Linked DNA regions of Homo sapiens: region 1 is linked to region 2. Evidence: fine-mapped expression QTL. A gene starts in region 2. The other region holds a variant in brackets. All regions are shown on one strand. Distances are between the middles of the regions. Region 1 overlaps METTL9 (methyltransferase 9, His-X-His N1(pi)-histidine). Region 2 holds the start of METTL9 (methyltransferase 9, His-X-His N1(pi)-histidine).

Region 1 (2,905 bases), 32 kb after region 2:
CTCTGGCCTCGGCCAGCCCCAGAGAGGAGGCCCCTACAGTGCAGCCGTGGGCTGAAGGGCTCCTCGAGCACAGCCAGAGCCGACGCCGTGGCCGAGGGGGCGCCGAGAGCGAGCGAGGGCTGCTAGCACGTTGTCACCTCTCAATCCCCCGTCTAAACAGGATACCCCCAACTGCTGTTGGGAATTTGGCTGATGACCACTCTAGCTACTTCCTGCTGGATAGGGGCGAAGAAGGGGCCCTGCAGTTGTAGTGTCCTCCAGAGGGGAACTCTTTAGGCCAGTGGAAGGGCCAGCGGGTTGGTCCAGGGGTCCTCGGTAGAAGTTGTTAGTTGAGCTCATTTGGGGTTCCATTTGTAAGACCATCTATAGCTTGATGGCCTCCATTCTAGAGGAAACAAATTTGACAAGAAGGTTAAAATTACAGGGCCCAAAGGTGAGTAACAGCAAGATGGCTGCCACAGGACCTAGAAAGGGGAGAAGCCATGTTGCCCAACTCCAGAGGTTGGTACAAGAGTTTGAAAGGTGGTGTCTGATTTCAGAAGCCTTTTCCTGTAAACGCTGGGCGGCATCTCGTACTATCCCTGCCTGGTTAGTGTAAAAACAACACTCTTCTCCTAAGAAGGTGCAGAGTCCTCCCTTCTCAGCAGTGAGGAGGTCTACGCCTCAGGGGTTTTGGAGAGTCACTATTGCCAGAGAGTCTATTTGGGATTGTAGAGTATGGATAGATTTTGTTATTTCTTGCAAACTATCTGAGAAATCCTTTGATAGTGTGTAATAGTAGGATAATGAAGTAGATAAACTGGCTATTCCGGTTCCTGTAGCAGTAGCCATTCCTAACCCTATAAATAGGGGTATTAGTTGTATGGCTCTGTGCTGACGGACTTGAGCTTTGAAGAGTATTGATAGGGTCTGATTTCCACAAGATTAGAAGTTAGGATAATATATGTTTACACTGTTAACTTTTAGCAAACTTTACTTTTGTTGAAAACCTTTTAAGTTTGGGATTTCAATTATTCTTTGCTATTAATAAGACCTCGTTTAGTGTATATTAACTTAGAATTGGTATAGATGGCTCCTTCCTGATTCTGTAAGTACTTTAAGGCTCAGCTGAGTGCAAACAGCTTGCAAGTTTGAGCAGACCAATTATTAGGCAATTTTCCTAACTCTGTTTCTACAAGAGTTTCCTTATCATTTACTGAATACTCATTGTGTCGTTTTTCCTTAATCGCCCGGGAGGAACCATCTATCGTCCTGTCCTGAAGGGAGTTCCTCCTATGTCTGATTGGACCTTTGTATGGTGATTAAGATTTAGATCCCCTGTTAGGAAACCTGCTGGGTTAAGGATTTTTGATAGGAAGGCTATGGGTTGTCAGTGGCCTCAGTGCTTTCGCGCTACGCCCTTGTTTACACTGACAACAAGGTGGTATTGGAGTGTTACAGGGTTACAGAGAAGACCTTCAATTATCAATTATAGGTTTTAACTTTACCCTGGCTTTTAAAGGAATAGGGTACACTGTTTTTTCTTTACTACTTCCATCTCTCTTTCTCTTTGACTTTTTCTTTGTCTCTCTCTCTCACTGACTCCCTCTTTGTCTCTGTCTCTTTGACTTTGTCTCTTTCTTTCTTTCTCTCTGACTCCCTCTGTCTCTTCCTCTCTTCCCTTTCTGCTGGTTTTTCCCTGCCTCTGCCAGCCACTTATCCTGCTGTTCTCCCCTCTCCTTCCCCTTTTGATGGCTTTGGCAGTGTAAGACTGCCGCCTCCTTGGGTTTTTGCACTGCATGCAAAAACTCC[A/G]TAATTGCCTTGTGGTATTTAATGGGGGTTCCCCCCAGAGGTTAGGAACTCCCTTTCTTTCCATATTGCAGCATTGGCATGTAGGATTACATAAGCATACTTGCTATCTGTATACACATTTATTCTTTTTCCCTTTTCCAGTTCTAAGGCTCAGGTAAGTGCCACTAGTTATGCTAACTGGGCACTGGTCCCTGGGGGAAGAGGCTTACTTTCAAGTACGGTTACATCATGAACTATGGCATAATCTGCCCTTTGTATCCCATTCTCCACAAATGAACTTCCATCGGTATATAGGTTAAGGTCAGGATTAGCTAGGGGGCCTTCTAAGAGATCATCTCGGGCCACATAAGTCTGGACTATAATTTATTGGTAGTCATGCTCGATTGGTTCCTCATCCTCTGGGAGAAAAGTGGCAGGGTTGAGGGCCACGCACATACGTATTTGAAGCACTGGTCCCTCAAGGAGTAGTGCCTGGTATCTAAGCAGGTGGTTGTCTGATAGCCATAAACTTCCTTTGGCACCTAGTATGCCACTTACATCATGAGTAGTCCAGACAGTGAGATCCTTTCCTTGTATTATTTTGATAGCCTCTGACACTAAGATGGCCACCGCCGCAACTACCCGTAAACAGGCCAGCCTTTTGCTACTACATCAATTTCCTTACTTAGGTATGCCACTGGTTGTGGGGTCATCCCACAAGTCTGAGTAAGGACTCCAAGAGCTATCCCTGCTCTCTCTGTGATGTATAAAGAGAAGTTTTGTTCTGTGGGAAGGCTTAAAGTCAGAGCTTATACTAGGGCCTGCTTTAAGGTTTTGAAGGCTATTTCTGCCTCTGGTTCCCCTTCTACTAGATGAGTATTTGCTCTCTGGGTCTCCTCGATTAGAGTATAGAGGGGCCTGGCTATCTCGCTGTATCTGGGGATCCATAGTCAGCAAAAGCCCGTGATTCCAAGGAACCCCCGCAACTGTTTTAATGTCTTAGGGCAAGGATAAGCCAGTATAGGCTGTATTTGTTCCTTGCTGAGGGCCCTCATTCCTTGCTGAGGGCCCTGGTCCCTCTGGCTAAGATTAGGTCTGGATATTTGACCTGCTGTAGGCAAAGCTGGGCCTTTGA
Region 2 (2,905 bases):
GGTGAAATCCCGTCTCTACGAAAAACACAAAAATTAGCTGGGCATGGTGGCGCGCACCCGTAGTCCCAGCTGCTCGGGAGGCTGAGGCAGAAGAATTGCTTGAACCCGGGAGGCGGAGTTTGAAGTGAGCCGAGATCGAGCCACTGCACTCCAGCCTGGAGACAGAGCGAGACTCCACTCCGTTTCAAAAAAAAAAAAAAAAAAAAGCTGTTGGGTAAGGAATGATTTTGTTCCCCATCTGTGGCTCACCACCCCACTGTTTCATAAATGAAAATCTCTGATGTGCAACGCTGAATTAACCAAAAGGCTTACTTCTTTTGTTTTGAACTTAGACACATTTACATTATTTCTGGTGCAGTTAAATTAAAAGCACTTTCCAAACAAACCTAGGAAAGTATTAAAGTTAGGGACTCCCACGAAATGTTACTCCTTAATTGTGGCTTGGATAATAGCAGGAAGAACTGCAGACAGGAACACAGTGTAACTAACCCTTCAGTTCTGAAATGTTGCTAGGTCTCCTCGTGTTATAAATGATCAAATAAATATCCGGGTTAAACACTGCTCCCAGAGCTGAGTTCACTCTTAAGAGTGTTGGGTCCAACTTCCCTGTGCTAATTCAAGGAAACAAGGCAGCCAAGGAGTCTAACTTGAGGTCTTCATTCTTGGGCAGGGCCATCAATACATCTAAAACATTACTTGTGGGTACCCCAGCTGCGGTAGCTTCCCCAAAAGGCAGAATTTTCACTCATTCTTTATAGAAACACGTAGCCAGCAACTTCTCAGGCTTGGGGAACGGGGCAGGCGGGTCGTGGTGGTGGGGAGAGTAGAGGAGGGAGTCTGGCAGGTCGGTTCTAAATGTAAACTGGAAACTACGCATCCGAGCGGGCAACCATCACTGGCACCATTCGTCTCCGGGAAGAACCTGTGTGTGTCAGGATGCACGAAAGGAATGACTCCCCTCTTTGCGCCCCCGGGGTTAACTGCACGACCCTGTCAAAGTCCCGCCGTGGAGTGGGATGAGGGTCGAGAGGTAACCCTGTCAAAGTCCCGCCGTGGAGTGGGATGAGGCGAGGAAAGACTGGAGGTCCTTCCAGCACCACCTTGGAGGGGCAGGGAGGCTGCAGTTACCGCCTTCGGAAGTGATCTCCTCAGCCCTCAAAAAAATTAAAACCACCTCCGCCATTTACTAGAGGCCAAGGCAGGGCCGGGACACGAGAACGCGCTCCGGGCGGATGCGCGCTCCCTTTGTCCCGCCTCCCAGCGGCCCGCTCATTGGACGGAGGGAGGGCGCCGGGGGAGAAAGCGACGCGGCCGCTCGTAAGTGCTCCGGATGGAAACTGGTGCAGGGGGCAGCGGCGTTCCGCGGCCGGAAGGGAAGGGGGAGGTGCCGAGGCTGCGCGCCGGCTGCTCCTCCCCACCCCCAGCCTTTGCCCTGAAGGGGGCTGGATGGGCAAGGCGGCCGCGATGGCTCGAGCTCGGGCGGTGGCGGCGGTGGCCGGAGGCGGCGGTGCCTCCTCCTCCTCGCCCCGGCGCCGGCGGTGATCCGAGCGAGCGGCCGCGGCCCCCGATGAGACTGCTGGCGGGCTGGCTGTGCCTGAGCCTGGCGTCCGTGTGGCTGGCGCGGAGGATGTGGACGCTGCGGAGCCCGCTCACCCGCTCCCTGTACGTGAACATGACTAGCGGCCCGGGTGGGCCGGCGGCGGCCGCGGGCGGCAGGAAGGAGAACCACCAGGTACGGGCTGGGGCCGGGGCCGGGGCGGGGGCGTGGCGGCCCGGCCTTCCCGCGCTGGGCCCGGCTATTGTGCGGGACGGCTCCGCGAGGGGGCGGCCCGGCCCTCGCCCCTCCGCCTCGGCCCCTTGGAAAGTTTTCCCCGCGCCTTCCCCGCCGGGCGTCGACTCCGCGAGCCCCGGGCACCCGGCCGCGGCCCCGCGAGCGCCTTTTGTTCCGCAGCGCAGGCGGGGCATGGCCTCCCGGGCCCGATCGTGAGCGGCCCGGAGCCCCGCATTGTTCCTGGGTCCCGGGCGGTGACTGCGGACGCCCGGCAGCGGGACTGGGGAACTTTGGGGCCAGAGCGTGGCTGGGGGCGCCCGCCTGGCACCGAGGCCTGAGACTGAAGAGACCCGGCCAGATCCATTACCCCGAGAAACAAAACGAAAAGCCAGCCCCTCTTGTTGTCTCGTTGAATCCCAGAACGTACAAAGGGTCGTGAAGAAATGTAACTGTACATCGCAAGCCATTGAACTCTCCAGGCTGATTGGGGTGACATTTCTCCCTAAGCACTTAAAAAATGGGTTTGACAGGTTGTCGCTCCCATCCTACGGAACCTTCCCCTCCTACCTAGCAGAGATCTCCTTTAAACTTGGATTTAGTCAGCCTGCTAGAAAGATTGTGTGTGATGAGGAGGAAGATTATGCAAGTTTTACAGGAAGGGTTTTTAAAACAGAACGGGACGGGAGGGAGTTTTAGTTATGCATCGTGAGCGTTACGCTGTGACCGGGTAGGTAGGCTTTTCATTAGCTCAGTCTTGCGCCACTTAAACGTGTACAGGTTAACTGTAGAATTAAGTGAGATATTTCGTATATGACCTTAACATAGTTTGCAGTTAATGTTAAATTCATTGAAAAGAGGCTTTTGAACTCTGCCAGAGTGTTGGCTTGTCATAGCTAGCATTTATAATACATTTTGCTTTTCCATAGAGTATTAATTATTCCCTATATCATCTTGTGTCTCATCATTTTCATATATTTCTCATTTTCCTACATTACTTTTTTATTATGCCAGGTGTTCAGAGAATTTACACCCAGGTTGATTTCATGTGTTTTAATGAGGGTAGAGAATTGTCTAAGAAGGAGATAGAGCAATTTAGAAAAGTAGCATTTAGTCTTTAGTAATATGTATATTGGG

Evidence for each region. PIP is the estimated chance that this variant, and not a neighbour inherited with it, causes the effect. A credible set is the group of variants that fine-mapping cannot tell apart.
Region 1: its variant is the best candidate, but not a certain one, in a credible set for the expression of METTL9 in blood mononuclear cells (TOPMed, PIP 0.58).

Annotation. Positions count from the first base shown.
Region 1 is chr16:21,630,365-21,633,269 of GRCh38, forward strand. The region is part of intron 4 of METTL9 (methyltransferase 9, His-X-His N1(pi)-histidine); the gene reads left to right. Among named protein-coding and RNA genes, the nearest start is that of IGSF6, 21 kb to the right of the region's middle. The variant A/G (reference allele first, on the strand shown) is at 1,792.
Region 2 is chr16:21,598,167-21,601,071 of GRCh38, forward strand. METTL9 (methyltransferase 9, His-X-His N1(pi)-histidine) reads left to right here and starts at 1,411. Exons shown (of 5, transcript NM_016025.5): 1 at 1,411-1,732. The coding sequence starts at 1,568. It overlaps LOC101927814 (a long non-coding RNA gene), which reads right to left and starts at 1,219. Exons shown (of 3, transcript NR_110930.1): 1 at 490-1,219. RefSeq lists a silencer at 1,398-2,017 and an enhancer at 2,126-2,690.